Regions from separate parts of the Homo sapiens genome. Here region 2 is linked to region 1. The links come from fine-mapping of genetic effects on gene expression. A gene starts in region 1. The other region holds a variant in brackets. All regions are shown on one strand. Distances are between the middles of the regions.

Region 1 (8,350 bases):
GATTTAATTTATATGAAATGTCAAGATTTGGGTCAATCCATAAAGAGAGAAATTAGATTGGTGTCTGTGGGGGTTCAGGAGAAGGGATAAAGTGGGGACCAGTGAGTGATTACTCGTAGGTACAGGATTTCTTCTGGGCATGATGAAAATGTTCTGGAATTATATAACGATGATGATTTCATAATCTTATGGATGTGTATAAAAGCACTAAATTACACACTTTAAAATGGTGAAGTTCTTAGTACCTGAATTAAATCTCAATAAAGCTGTTTTTAAAACAGCTTCTATATCTCCTAATCCTAGCACTTTATAGAGACTCAGCACAACTGCTTGGGTTTTCTTGATGTTCTTTTTCAGACTTGGGTACAGTTACCACAAACAATGCTTGCTGACTCCAGTGTTAGGACTCAGCATAGGATAAGTAGTTTAAGATAAGTGAATTGCTATCTGTACTAATGTATCTTTAAAATTCATCTACCAATTCTCCAAAGCCACAAAATTTATTCTGAATTTAGGTTTTTATGTGACAATGTGGACAGAATGTCATGGGTGATGGAGATTCCTGGTTTTGTAATTTTCCTAGAAGAAAAGACTTCTGCTGAGAGACACATCTGTACTTGAATTCAAAATAATACTTCAATTCTCTACATCTGTGGGAGTTTCCAGAATCTTACTTATACCTTTCAAGATGTACTCCCCTACTATGTTGCTCTCATGCCCTTCCAAGTTAGATGTCTTTTGGAGAGATTTTTTTTTTTTTCTTTTTGGCTTGCAGTAAATGCACAAAGGCCAACAAACTTTGTGGTTCTTTATAGATATCCAATATAGATACAGTGTAAAGAAAGTTCATTCTGACTTTTTTATTCATTGATATTAGATAATTTGGTTGTTGTTTTATGTTATATGTCTAGTTGAAAGTAAAAAAAACTTAGGTTGGGGAAAGTTTTTTCTTACATGTGTATAATGTTTTTCTCTCAAATAAGCATACATTTTGAAGTAATGCAGACTGAATTTGAATGCCATCGCCACTATATAAGTCTCTGAGTGACCTTGAGCAAGTTACTTAACTACTCTGAAACTGTCACCTTAACTGGAAAAGAGAAAAATACTAGAAATAACTACCACATTTGGTTTCTATGATTAGGACGTAAGATAATGGATGCAAAGTTGTTATATAAAAAATGTATTCTACAAATATGAGTGTTATTTCCTGGTGCACACATTAAAAAAATTGCCAAGTAGCCTTATGTCTTTGTTGAGTATACAACTCAAGTAATCTCCTTCAAAGTGAGCAGGGAATCTATGTTAGAAAACCCTGGCAGGAGCAAACCAGAGTTTTTATTTTACTTGGAATCAGAGTTCTGTTTTAGAAAAGTGTGGTGTCGTTTTTTTCTCTTAAATGATATGCAATTCACATGTTAGTTTATTTGTATATGCCTACTTATTAGGCATATACAAGATCGATAATGTTGTGGATCTTATTATTATTGCCCAAGGGGCTAATATTCACTTTTCAAAACTTATTACTCATCTAGTTCAGCAGCTCAAGATTTTGAAGCAAATCTGTTTTACATACATGTCTTAACCTTCAATCCCATTTAAAAAAAATAGTAAATTAGATGGTTAACCTTTTAGATTTGCATCCTCTTTAAAATAAAGCTTTACAGCAAATGCATTTTTCCTACAAATGTCTTCGAAAATGAGATTGAAGAGGATGTATCATCTAAATTTTTCTGTAAAGAGCTTGCCCCCGAAATAATTGGAACATGAACTGAAACCTCTAGATAGGAATTCCTGGACACAGCTGTCCATTATCTTTCGGGACTTTGGTGCACCTCACCCTTTACTGAACACAACTTTGTGTCAAACACTGGGCTAGGAGTGCTAGTTGTGATGTTTGAGGCAACAGTGGAATTTTTCTTAGGACTTAGTAGAACCAGTTCTTTTTTTTAATATGCATAGTCAGATTTTGATGATATTCAGTCTGCTCATATCTATAATAGTGATATTAACGTCTATTTCACTAGGATGGCTCTTGTGAAGATTAAATTAAATACTGTATGAAGAAGTGCCTTATACACAGTTATATAACCAGGATAATATCCAGATGGAATTCTCATTCTCTCTCTCTCTCTCTCTCTCACTCTCACTCACACACACACACACACACACACACACACACACACACATGCAATATCATCTTATAAATATCCTAGAATTGAATATCTCAGTAGCAGAGATAGTAGTTCTGTTTCTCAGAATTGCTTTTGCAAAATGGTGTTTTGGATTATAATTGTGCTATTTAATTTTTCTAATTAAAATTTCTAAATAGAGCCTATTAAATATTGGATGCTTATGATAGAACATTTGAAAATATAGAAAACCAAATGACCTACAAAACCTCTACCTTCCAGTACCATCATTCCGAGCTGATTACTGTTAACATTTTAATGGTTTTTGTCCGCTAGGTCTCCTTGATGAGTTTCACCTGAGGAAAAGGACTCCTTCAGGTGTGTGAACTTGAGCCACCAGGTCCAACCCCATTGGCAGGTGCTGGTACAGACGACTGAAATCAGAGGAAGATCAGAAATCTTCAAAACCCAGAGCAGCAGATGTCTTAACGGTCCCGAAACGTTCTTTGGTTCTTTGCAGTCAACATTCACGGGTTAAGAAGATTGCAATGCCATGACGGGCTGAGGTTGCATTTCTGGACGCTGCTTACTCCCGCTTCCTTCCATCTGTTTCAGGCAAATCATTATGCAGTTCTAATTAGAACAATCTTCTAAACACTCTCTCCAGAGCGACGTTCTTCCAAACACGGTTTAAGCGGCGAGAGACACCTGCCTAGGACCCTACGCGTCTGGAAGTCTCTCCCAGTGAATTGGGTCTCATCTCCTGCCGAGTACGCAAGTTCAATTATCGGCAGATTAGGTTTCTACTCTCCGTGCCCCGCCCCGCGCCATCCTGGGGAGCAGCGGGAATAAATGATCCGCCCCTGGCCAGTGCTCACCCGACTGACCAGAGCGCAGCCCGGTGACCGAAGCGCACGGGGCGATCGCGAGGCGCCCCCTCCCTCTCCCCGCGCCGCCTCCAGCGCGAGTGACGGCGCGCCCTCCGGGCTCCGGAGCGGCGGCGCCGAACAATCCCCGGCAGGGCTCGCCTCGCCGGTGACATCACTCCTGAAGATACTCCTCGCTCCCAGCGCCTGCCTTCCCCAGGCGTCCGTTCGTGTGCCCGTCTCCGCCTTTCCGCCTCGGAAGAGCGCTCATCACTGGCTGGGGACAGAGCCGGGCACCAAGGAGCGACAGGATCCCGAAGAGAGAGAGAGAAGGCAGCGAGGGAAGGAGGACCCCGGCAGGCAGCAGCATGAAATTCAGCCCAGCGCACTACCTGCTGCCTCTCCTGCCTGCGCTGGTCCTCAGCACCAGGTGAGTCCAGGAGCGTGAGTGACCTGAGGCCAGGGGCGCTGCCGGGGCGAGGTTGGTCCTACTGTGGGTCACCAGTGGGGGCCAAGGCACTTCAGCTGTTTGCATCTCCCGCCTAAGCAAGAGGGACGCTGTATGGTTTGGGCTCTGAAATCCTTCTGAGAGAGCAGAGCCCTTTCCTAGTTATCCCAGCCCCCTGGAGAAAGTCTTAGGATTGCTCTCAGTGAGGGATCAAAAGCTTTCTCTTCCGAAGGAGAGAAAAGACATTTTACCCTCCGGTCCTATTAGTAGCCAAAAGGTAACACGCGGTAAAAGAACAAAATAAAGAACGGAAATAGGCAAGGAGGGAATTGCCACCAGGCAGTGTCTTTACATTGGAGTTGTCTTAATAACCATAGAGCTTCTCCCTTCCCCCAAGTGTGCCTGATTTAAGGAAGAGGAAACCAGAGAAAACAGATTAATCCTGGAAGATGCTAAGACTTGTACAAAAGTTCCTGGACTCCTGAAATGGCATGTTTCAACGTCTTGGATAAGCTTAGTGATAGGCGTTTTCTTTTGACTGTCTTGTGAACAGGTCTAATTAAAGAGCACAGAAGGCGATTAAAAGTTAGAAGACACTCTCAGAGTGCTGATGCAGAGACCCTAGTCAGAAACAATTAAGTACTGTACTCCATCACTGGCCATGGATGGGACTTTAAGCCCCATTACAGAGGAGCTATTTTTGGTGGAGATTTAAAATGCAGAGATTGAGAAGAGTTTTGTGACTCCCCACTGTTGATCAAGTCCCAAAGTTGTGATGGGTTTGCTTTTTTCTTCCACAAGCGCAGCACAAAGGTGGACTGTTTAGTTGCCCAGGACTGTCTTTATTCTGCATGCCCTTAGCATCATATTGGCAGCAACCTCTTTCCCTTGGCTACTATAAAATAAAATAACCCACACAGGATGAAGATCCTTTCAAGTCTACGTGAATAGAAACATTATTTGATTGTGCATCTGATGGCAAATAAAGTAGGGATATAGGGTTGTTTCTAATTCTGAAATGGAAAAGGATGAAGAAAACTTACTCTGTCTTACAAATCAAGGCTGTAAAATTCTTGATTCCGTTCCTAATCTACACACCTTCTTTCAGGCCTGTGTAACCAAACTTTCCTTTTAGTGTAGAGACTATTTCATTTACCCTCAATAATTGATAAATTTAGTCTTTCCTTGCAAACAAAGCCCAGGTGACTTTCCCAGATTAAAATGAAATGTAAGTTTGATTCTTCATTTTCTGTAAGGTTTGCTTGTCACTTCAGCTCATAAAGTGCAGATGGTTTTAAAGAAAACCAGTTTGCTTCCCAGTATTATAATTAGTTGCTCTAAATACAGAGCCCATTTTAATATTTGTGGTTAGCTCTCAACAGTTCAATACAAATTATGCATCACAGTTATTCTTTAAATTCTTGCCATTCACTCTTATGTTGTGATTTAGTCTTCTAGAGAAAGGAAATTTTCTAACTTTGGACACTTAAGTAGATGACAGTCAACACATGCATAAATAATAGGAAATATTTAAACAATAGAAATCCAGCCCACAGTGATTTTAGACTGTGAACATCTCTAGAGTTCCAAAAGTACATTTGCTTTTTAAGGATACTATAATTAAATTGAATGAAAAAGCTCTATAGTCTCTAGCGTCCAAAGATTTAATGTTCGATATCTAATACAGGGTCAAAAAGCCATTATCTTTTCCTTTCATGAAAGTGTTGATTTTGATAGGGATAAATTTCTTTAAAAATAGTTAACACACTTATTACAACAAAAACTGGAATAATCATCTATTTCACTTTAGCTTTGAAACTTCTGCAATGCTTGTGGTATGTGAAAACTATGGTTATTAAATTTTACCAGAAGAGAATGCTGGGCTTGAAAAAGATGAAATATTTATAATAAGTAGCATATCTTATTAATGTGATTACTCTGTAGGAATTCATTTTACTGGATACCCAGAATACCCTGTGATATTGAACAAATATGAAAAGCAATGCGGTACTATCAGTGTCATTTTGCAAAGAAGAGAATATGTTTTAAAGATCTCTAACAGAAGGCCATTCTGTGTATAATATTTAACAGTTCTTATAGGCACATGGTTATTGTGCAGATTAGAACCTAAACTGAGCAGCTTTGAAAGGACAGTTGTGTTAGTAGGGATGAGCTTATTGTCCTGCTGGGAAAAGCTGAGTAGCTCAGCCATGGCCACCTGGGACAGTGGGTTTTCTGGCCAAAGACTTCTGTTAACTTAGTTTCTTAGTCAGTAGTCCTGTATGTGAAGCAAATGGTATTTCACATGTTTAGATCACGCTGGATGCATTAGCAGGTGGTGGTAATTGCTAGTTTTTCCTATAGCCTTTGGGTAATCTCACCTGTCTTTTATTGTCAAACTCTTTCCAAAGTGTAGGGAATGCAGAGCGGAGACTCTTAATGCAAATATATATATATATTTGTTTCATTATATCTTTCTCTGAGTGCATTGCCTTAATACTTTGCTATTTTATTTCCAATAGGTCTGAAGTTCAGTTCTATTTTAAAGTAATCTGTTCAGTGAAACAAATGCTGCAGGTGAAAAGGTAGTCTTTTGACTGTGTTGTGAACAGGTCTAATGGTATCTAGCCCACAGCGACTATCCTGTCTTTTAAACAGAAATTTTTGAATAGAAAACAATCCTGCCTTTTAAATAGACATTTTTGAATAGCTTTCTCTTTTTGCTTGTTCCTCCTTCTCACCTTTTCTGAAGCAACTTTAGATGCTGAAGCACAAAATCCCATAATTTAATCACAGTGAACATCAATGGCCCCCAATCAGAGTTAATGTATTTGTCCTGAAAGAAAGCTAAATGTTCAATTTACACAAAAGCCAAGCATTTTTCTCTGTTTTACTGGTAAACCCCATAGAGTTTTAAAAAACGAACAAAGAAAAAGAGCTGTTTAATGTCCTGGCATATGGTCTCTCCTGCTTAGAAAATGCATATAAATTACCAAAAAAAATCAAGTTAATGATATGAATAATGTAACTAATACAGAAACTCATTTAAACTGTACACAAATAAATGTGATCAAAGAAAGCAAACATGTTGGTTTAATAGCTTTGGAGTAGAATGACTATACTTTTAAGATAGCCTTGTTGTATAGTATTAAATTGCTATTCCAAGGTAGGCAGTAATTCACTTCAGAAAGAAGCAGTATAGGTATTGAAAGTAATGGTAGGGTGAAAAATTCTTTAGAAGTTCTTGGTGAAAAGGGACCCATGGAGTGCTGGAGAAGGCTCATGCTTTATTCTGCTGAACCTCTGTTCCTTTACGCTGTGGTTATACTCTTGATGCCTTTGGATTGTTAACTTTTAAATGACTTAATAAGGAGAGAGACATGGCAGGGGAGGAGTGAAGGTCTATTGACTTCTGGTGGTTTTCCATGAAGCAAGAACTTTGAGCAGATGGTCGGTTATAGTCCTCCCAACAGGAGTCACCTTAGAGGTCTCTCCTGGACTGTCTGATCAGCAGTCACACTACATGTTTATTTTGGAATCTATTTTTAGATGATACTATATATTGAAGATGCCCCGGGCTATTTGTTCCGTGAATTAAACTAACCTCAAGATCAACTTGATTTGTAGAATAAAGGACAAGAATCACAATAAACACAATGAGAACACACAAAAAATATTTTTACCCAAATAAATTTGATGCAAGAAGCAGTCTCACCTTAACTCTCCTGAAATATTTTGAGGCAACATGGGTTTGCTTCCTAAGTCCTGTGCACAGTGTCTGCCACACATGACATTTTACAGGATGCTACCTACGTTCCTTTATTTGTGATAAAAATTGTACCTTCCATGTAAATGAGATAGAGGTATGGCTTTCTTAAGAAGATATTAACACACAAATATTTTGACTTCTTACATTGCAGTTTTGCACCTTAGTCACCTATTTCCAATAGCAGTTTTTAAAATGACTTATCTGGTGATTATCTTTGTGGATTAAATTTTCTCTGTGATTAATGATAGGGACATCTCAAATATTTGATTTGTCTGTACAGTTGTCCTTAACCAAACTCCATGTAATTGAAAGGAAGAACTTGACCTTCTAACTAAGAAGCAAAGATCACTGAAACCAATGAGGAATGCGTGGTTCTAATGAAATAATGTTTTCTGGTGTGTGTTATAAGAAACTATGTGTGCGGCTGTTTCTCAGTGACTTCTAGAAGATTTGCTAAAATCCCTTTTACAAATGGTGCTAAATCATTTAAGTAACCTGATTAAACAGGTACTGTTTAAAATTATGGTTCCTTTTCTGAGAAATCCAAAAAGACTCTCTGAACTTGTCTTCATCCCTGTAGACATGTCTTTGATGTTTCATTATCATGCAGTAAGAATGTGCCTGCTATCAGTCAGTTATTACATGCACCATCAGGGCAATAAAACAATAGATTAGTTATGTATATCCATAATCTAGTCATACATACAAATAATGATATATAAAACAAAATTGGGTAAATAACAACAAAATTTTACACAAATTTCTAAGTGTGAATGAAGCAAAGAGTTAATAATGCCAATTAAGTGGTGTCTGGGGCAACTTCTACTTTCCAAGGATATTGAAAAGAAAAATATTTTGTGATCAACCTCAATATCCTGCCACACTTACTATATGTTATTAGGTAAACTTCTTATCCTCTCTATCCAGTTTTCTGATGTAGAACACAGACCTCCCCATAACACCTACTTGAGAAGGTAACAGCCTTCAATTGTAAGGACTGAATGAGTTCATCCGTGGAAACAGTTTAGCATATTCCCTAAGTACTCAACAAAGGTTAGCCTGTACAGTTATTATGGTATTATTAATATTATTTTTATAAAATCTTTGTGATTGATTTGGCCATAGCAGAAAAAAG
Region 2 (8,350 bases), 520 kb before region 1:
ACTATATATTGGGCACACACTATGTGTTAGGCTCTGAGTCTGGACCTGGTGATTCGAGGTGGAATAAAATAGGCCAGACTTGCAGACTCCATTTCCAGGATCACTACATTAATTTAGAGTCTTACCATTTTTCTTTTACTGTAGATTTTCAAGCCAATCTTTCTGACCTTTCTCCCTGCATTCTCTCTCACTTCAATCTCTACCATAAACTGACATCAAAATGTCAGTGATCTAGATATAAAATATAACCATACCTCACATTATGAAACATAAACATATTAAATTGTTGCTTTTTGTCTAAATATTTTGGCTGCAAATGAAATAATCTAAATTCAAATTAAATTATGCAAAATGGGATTTTTTTTTTGTACTGCCTTACAAACTGAAAATTTAAATGGCATTTTGGTTTCAGATTATACTCTGGCTGTAGTGGCAGTTCTTTCAATCATTATGGCAATGTTTCTGAGATGTGTTTTTAGTGAATCAACATAGGTAATGTAAATCAATGAAAATGACCGAAGTGAGTGAGTCTCAAGTATTTTAGGACTTTTTTTTTTTTTTTTTTTGCCAAAATTAAGGACCACATGCCCTGGAGGCCTTTATCCAAAGATGATTTTGAGAGCTTAAATATTTGAATGGGAAAGGGTGTATATTGGGGGAAGAGAAAGAAATTTAAAAAATGTGTGGGGAGATAAGAGACAAAGGGTTGCATTCTGTTGAGTCTTTGATCAGCCTTTTACTAAATACACAATTTTCAAGTAGGGGGCGAGTAAATAGTCACTCATGCCTTTGTCTGGCATGAATCTGCATTTTTACATAATCAGATATGCGTTTGTCTCAGGTGAACAGATGAATGACTTTGAGTTCTGTCCTTTGTCCTGCACTTGTGAATAAAGCTATCAATTTACATTGCCAGGGTGAAATTGAATAGGACTGCTTTAGAGTAAAGAACTTGGGGCCCACAAGAAAGTTCCTTGTGGGAAAATTGTGAGGGAGCTATGTAGTTTTTTTATCTTTGTAGCTGTCTTATTTAGGAATCAAATGGGAGGCAGGTTTGTGTGACCCAGTTCCCAACTTGACTTTTCCCCTTTGGCTTAGTGATTTTGGGATCCTGAGACGTATTTTCCTTTCACAGTAACATCTATTCCTCGACTAGTTGTTGTAGTCTGGGAAAGGAATACACAGCCTTGCAGATGTAAGTTACATTCTCATTCCTGAATCTAAAAGATGCAATCATCTCTAGTAAAATTATAATGATTCAATATGAGAGGGAATTAGTTCTTCAAAATAAAATTATAATTACTTTATGAAATAAATTATTGCAGTGGAAAGAGAACCAGGAATTTATGAGGAAAAAGGGAGGAGGGAGGCTAGGGGCCAGACACTGGACAAACATAAAAGTATAAAAGTATATATCCAAAAGATGGTCTGGAAATATTAGCATGGGTCACCATATTCCTTAGGTTGACTTACAAGTCTTTTTGCAACATTGTACCCGTCTTACTTAGCTTCTCCATGCGATTTCTTTTGAACAAACTTATGCTCCAACAGCATCAAATTATGGTGTGTTCTCTAAATGTTCTATCAGCTCTCTTGTCTCCACATGCCTACTCTGGTTATTCTGTCTGGAATGTGCCCTCTGCCCTTCCCTCCAAGGAAATTCCCACTCTTAATGGAAAAAAATCTCTTGTTTGACAAGACCAATTTCTTTGTTAAATTGTCCTTGTCGCTCAGGCAAAATTAGTTGCCACCTATTCTCTGTCCTCAGTGACACCTTATACAATCCTTTGTTTGGACCCTAATTGAGTTTGGTAACTTTCTACTTAGAGTCCCTGCCTCTTTTGCTATAGATTAAAGTTGAAGTAAGTCTACTTTACTCAAGCTTGTGTCTCTACTATTTAGTATGATGTCTGTAAATACTGGATCTCAATAAATGTTCATTGAATTAATAACATTAAATAAAAGTAAAGGATGCAACATTCAGACTTTATCTTGCAGGCCAAAATGATGGGACACCCTGTTAGATATTTTGTGAAAACAGATGAGACTAAATATTTGGAGAATTTTTTAAAAAACACAGTAGCATTCTATTCCCAAAAATAGTTTCATTCCTGATTTCTTATGGTTTTATCTATTATTTTCCAAAGATTACACATAACATATTTTCTTGGTTTTCTGGCAATATTGCCAATGATGATGATGAGGGCCTTTCTTTAAATACCTTCACCATAAATGGAAACTAATTTCTTTAAAGGTCTTCAAGCACACTCTGAAGGCATATATCCTTGTTTGGCAGTTAGATCATTGTGATCTGCCTCCTCACTGACTTGAAAAGTCATTAAATAAATTAGCAAAAATTAATAACACATATCACAAGTTTCATGTACAAAGGGTCCCAGCCCTGGTCATAGTGTAGAATAAAGTCTCTGCTACATCTGTTTCTGCCTAAAGGTGCTGGGTTGGGTGAAAGGGGGTGGACGGAGTAACAGAACTTAGGGACAGAATGTGGGCAGTGGCAGTGAGAAAGCTGGGTTTCCAGGTGGTTGTAAGTCAACAGAAAGTGGCCGAATATCTTCCTGTACTAGATGACAAAATGTCAAACCTGGATGAGATAAAAGAGATCTTTTGTTTCATTATCCTAAATGAAACTTACAGCACAGAGACATTAAACAAGAATGTCACACAGCAAATGAGTGGTAAAACTGTGACAGGAGGCTGGTATGTATATATATTTGTTCAAAATTTATATCAAGAATACCTTCTAGACGGCTTTTAAATGGCGATGTAATATTTAAAAGATTTACAATATGGAAATAGAGGAATGTCATTTGAAGTATCACATACAGAAAATTTTTCCCATCTATTACTCAATGTGTAGTCGATCCACCCATCCTCTTCTCTGGGGTTTCTCAGGCTGCTCGCAATAAGTTACAAAGCTTATTCTCGAACAAGTTGAAATGCTTGAAGGAAATGAGGGAGAGTGAATGCTTAAGTGGAATTATACCATTGCCACCCTTATTTGCATTGTATTTTGCATATAGAATCAAAGTAACTAAGACAAACTGATGGGATCAATTTTCTATAGGTGACACTCTTTGTAAAAATGATGCATTTACACACACATTAAAATGAAGCCAAATACAAGCTATATCTGGATATGAATAAAAAGCAGTGTGGTACAGTGGAAAAAGAACCAGGAATGTATGAGTTTCTTAACTTGGGTATGCCCCTTGACCTCAGTTTCTTCACCTATACAGAATAATCCCTAAGTAGATGAGAACTTAGGCCTCTTGATGCAGGAGTGAAAGTCCTGTGAGCATAAAGTCAATAGATAGCGAATGTATAAGTCATGCTGGAGCTCTGCCTTTCATGGTCCCTTGATTTTTCTTGGTCTCACTAGTCCCTTTGAGTATTGATGCTGGTGTGATCATTAAAGTATCTTATATTGAACAATGAGAACACATGGACACAGGAAGGGGAACATCACACACCGAGGACTGTTGTGGGGTGAGGGGAGTGGGGAGGGATAGCATTAGGAGATACACCTAATGCTAAATGACAGGTTAATGGGAGCAGCACACCAACATGGCACATGTATACATATGTAACAAACCTGCACGTTGTGCACATGTACCCTAAAACTTAAAGTATAATAATAATAAAATTTAAAAAAAAAAAAGAAGTATAAGTTTCTCTTTGGCTCTTTACTTCTGCTTTTCTCAATAGTTGGAGAAGAAAAAAAGCACACGTTAGTCACTGATAGATCTCATGCCAGTAAACTGTATTTGTTAATTTTTTATGATAACCTTCTTCAAGACTTGTGAATGTGTCCAACCTTCTCAGATCCTCCTTTCATCACTCTCCTTTTTCTCTTGTACTTCTTGAACTTCCTTTGAGTCACTTAATTTCTCTAGGAAGGATCTTCGTTCTTCCCTGCTTGCTATCTGCCTTCCCTTTTCTTCATCCATATTCTGTCACAATGTGAAACATTCCATTTACCACAGCCCAAGTGATGAAAACCTTTTATTCACATATGAAAGTCATCAGAACTGACTGCCTGATGCATATTTTAAAAAATTAATGTTCTGTACCTTCCTAATAAGTGAATGCCCCTTCCTAAAAGCTACATCAGAAAGAACAGCCCCATGTATAAGTTGTTACTATAAATTATAACTAAGCTAAGAGTAGAAGTCAGTTACCACAGAATGGAAAGGAAAATCCCAGACATTTTGTCTATCACTTCTGTTTATGATAGAAGGAATGATCACAGATTTTGAAACAGCATGATCTCAGTTAAGTGTTAACTCTACCATTCTCATGCCAAGACCTGAGCAAGTTGTTCTTTCTAAGCCTTAATATTCTTCACTGCTTTCTGTGGATAAGATTCCCTACCTCATAATTTTTTGAAGATGTCAAGAACTTTAGTTTCATGACTTCCTAATTTTACTGGTGGCTGTAAAAGGGGAAAAAAGAGAAAATAATTCTGATAGACTTTTTAGATATTTTTCCTTCTTTTGAAACCCTAATTCTCAAAGGAATTCATTGACT[T/C]ACTCTAAACATATTTCTAGCATGAGACATTTTTCCTAACTTAAAACTAAGCTCATTTTCACAGTTGCCTCAGGAATCTTTCAATAGTAGTATAGAAACAAATAGAATTGTATCTCTTATTTTTCCCATATCTATGATTTGACAAATCATTTAACTACATATTATTTTGTAGGAGTTTCTTTCATAATGAGTAGGTAAGTTCTTATAGCTAAGCACTTATGATTATGAAAGATGAGCTGATGCTTTCAATCAATCATTCTAATATCTCTCTGATCTCACAGTTATAGATGCCAAGGTGCAGCCACAAACATTAGAAGGTCCCTGCCTTTGAAAGGCTTTATGTGCTAACCCTAGTCTTATCTGAGGACTAAGACACTGGTCCGTAGAGGTCTAGATGTATCTCTTTAGCATTATAGGTTTATAGTCAATCTAAAGAAGTAAAGTTTCAGAAGGTGTCACTTTAACAGAACTTTTCCAAAGCCCTTGAGGAGGCCTTAAAAATGTGTTTACTTGTTCATAATATTTTAGCGCTTTATTCAGGAATGATTGACATACAATGAATTGTGCATATTTATGAATTATTTATTTATTTTGAGACAAGATCTTTCTCTGTCACCCAGGCTGGAGTGCAGTGATGCGATCATGGCTCACTACAGCCTCCGTCTCTCAGGCTCAGGTGATCCTCCCACCTCAGCCTTCTGAGTAACTGGGGCTACAGGCGTGCGCCACTATGCCTGACTAAATTTATTTATTTTTAGTGAAGATGAGGTCTCACCATGTTGCCCAGGCTGTCCTCAAACTCTTGAGCTCAAGTGATCCTCCTGCCTTCACCCCAAAGTGCTGGGATTACCGGCATGAATCATCATGCTGGGCTTGTGCATATTTAAATGCATGGTACATTTCTTCATTTGTTTTAGGTTTTATAGCTTTTAGGTATAGGCCTTGAACATCATTTTTCAGATTTGTACCTAAATATATCATATTTTATACTATTACAACATATTTAAAAATTTTAATGTATTCATTCCTTGCTACTATCTAGAAATATAATTTTTAGATATTAATTTTTGTACACTATGACCATGATAAACTTACTAGTTAGTTATACTAGCATTTTTGTAAATTGCAATGAATTTTCTGAAGAGTTGGTTATTTAGTCCATGAATAAAAACAGTTTACATTTTTTCTTTCCAACTTGGAAATCTTTCATTTCTTCTTCTCGCCATGTTGCACTACTAGAACCTCATGTATGATGCTAAACAAAAATGGCAAAAAAGGGGCCAGCACTTTGGGAGGCCAAGGCGGGTGGATCACCTGAGGTCAGGAGTTCATGACCAGCCTGACCAACATGGTGAAACCCTATCTCTACTAAATACAAAAAATTGGCCAGGCGTGGTGGTGCATGCCTGTGATCCCAGCTACTTGGGAGGCTGAGAGAGGAGAATCGCTTGAACCTGGGAGGCGGAGGTTGCAGTGAGCCGAGATTGCGCCATTGCACTCCAGCTTGGGCAATAAGAGCAAAACTCTGTCTTAAAAAAAAAAAAAAAGGCAAAAATGGACATCTTTGCCTTATTCCTGATCTTAGGAGGAAAGCATTCTACTGCTCATAAGTAATATGATATAATGATATAAGCTGTCAGTTTGCCAAAGATTGGGTTGAAAAAATTGTTTTATTCGTTTCTAGTTTGCTAAGAATTTTCTTCAGTGATTTTAGATTTGATCAAGTTCTTTTTTTATCCATATGTTGAGATGATCATATGATTTTTATTTTTTGTCTGTGAATGTAACGAATCACATTTATTAAATTTCTAATGTTAATTTAAATTTCTGTGAAAAAAACCTACTTTGAATTGGTGGATTATCTATCTTAAGTACAGTGGTATATATGGTATATGATTTTCTAAAAGAAATTTTGCATCCATACTCATGTGGAGCATTGGTCTCCAATTTTCATTTCTTTTAATATCTTAGTTTTGTTCTCAGAGTAATGTCATTCTCTTAGAATGAGTTCATAAGTATTACTGCTTTTTCAACTTTCTGAAAGAGCTTGTGTAAAATTAGTTCTACTTTATTCCTTAGTATCCAGTAGAATTTACCAGTGAACCATATGAGTACAGAGGATTCCTGGTGGAAAGGTTTATAACTAAAATTCAATTTTGTTAACAGGTTAACAAAATAATTAGGTTAATAATAGTCATGTAATTAGGCTACTCAATTTCTTTATTTCTTCTTGAGTGTGTATGTTGGTTAATTTTATGCGTCAATCTGACAAGGCCACCGGGTGCCTCGATATTTGTTCAAACATTATTCTGGGTGTTTCTGTGAGGGTGTTTGGGGAAGAGAGTAACATTGAAATTGGTTGATTAACACAAACTGCCCTCTCTGATGTGGGTGGACCTCATACAATCAGTTGAAGACATGAATAGAAGGATAACAAGATTGACACTCTCTCAAGTAAGAGAGATTACCTCCTGCCTGACAGCCAGGTCTCCAGTTTGTCAACTCACTTTGTACATATGGGGCCAAAACCTGATAAGGAATAAGTAAATAAATATATAAATAAACACACACATTTTATTGGTTCTGTTTCTCTGGACACTGAGCTTTGGTAGTTTGTGCCTTTAAAGGAGTGTAAGGAGTGTGCCCATTTCATATAAGTTGTCCAATTGACTTGCATAAAATTGTTTAAGACATGTCTTTAATATCCTTTTATGTCTGTGCAGTCTGTGGTGATGTTACGCTGCCATATCTGATGTTAGTATTTTTTGCTTTCCCTCCATTGTTTCTAATATGTTTAATGCTACAACTCTCAGATCTATTGGTTGGACACACAGTCTCTGACATATGGCTGTTGTTAGTTTAAAATGACAGAATATTTTTAGCTCTAAAAACATTTTGTAGAGCTTTTTTTTTTCTCACCAGAAGTTTCTGAGGTGGCTCCTGCTGCTAGTTTGTTAGAAATAGTATATTCTACAAAAGCCATACAGTATCCTAAATTCAAAATCTTCAGTGAAAGGCTCCAGATTCTTTTTTGAGTCATTGACCTATCTTTCTTCCAGCATCTCCTAGGATTTCATACTTGAATGACAGCTCAATGCACTGATTTAAGTCATAAGAATTATATTCTCATTGAACAGGAGGTATTTTCAAGAACAAGAATTCTTGCCCTATTTAACTCTGCAACCAAATGTGGCCATCTTGAGACCATAAGTAACACCAAAAATGACCCCTTCTCAAGAGAAGCCTACTTGGAAACGGTTAAGAAGGGGTTAAGAGAGAGGGGGTGTGAGTGAAGGAAAGTAGCAAATTATCCTCACACATTCTACAGTGTGCAGAGCTATAATTTTGAAGTGAAAAATTTCCATAACCGCTGTTGCAGTAATTGGCATTAGTAGTGTATATTCTTGGAATTTAAGTGACAATTATTGCCTCTCGGTTCATACTCCTACTTTGTACTAAAATGTTCTGCTACCACGTGCCTTAGAGCTTTTACTCTCAATAAATATATTTGGTTGAACTAGTTCTTTCAGTTTTCTCATTCTTTATTTTAAATTTTTCATCACTCTCGCCTTTTTAAGTAGTCATTTAGAATCTGAGAGGCCCTTAATATTTTGGTCATTGTTCTGTTCCTGCAAGGTATAAAGAGACCAACTTTTGTACAGTTACCTTGTTACCTATGGTGGCTCCTGGAACTCCTGTATGGTAGGAGAAATTATATTATAAACCTATCAACTCCAGACTGATGAGATTCACAGATAACTATCATGTTGATAGAATGTGTTTATGATAGTTTGACTTAAAG

Direction of the effects. Alleles are on the strand shown, and positions count from the first base shown. SD is a standard deviation of normalised expression in the study named.
In carriers of allele C in region 2, the expression in tibial artery of the gene that starts at base 3,176 in region 1 tends to be higher than with T alone (small effect, 0.36 SD a copy in GTEx).

What was found. PIP is the estimated chance that this variant, and not a neighbour inherited with it, causes the effect.
Region 2: its variant is the best candidate, but not a certain one, in a credible set for the expression of LUZP2 in tibial artery (GTEx, PIP 0.90).

What each region holds. Positions count from the first base shown.
Region 1 is chr11:24,493,878-24,502,227 of GRCh38, forward strand. It overlaps LUZP2 (leucine zipper protein 2), which reads left to right and starts at 3,176. Exons shown (of 12, transcript NM_001009909.4): 1 at 3,176-3,428. The coding sequence starts at 3,367.
Region 2 is chr11:23,972,625-23,980,974 of GRCh38, forward strand. No RefSeq gene overlaps it. Among named protein-coding and RNA genes, the nearest start is that of LINC02726, 250 kb to the left of the region's middle. The variant T/C (reference allele first, on the strand shown) is at 4,549.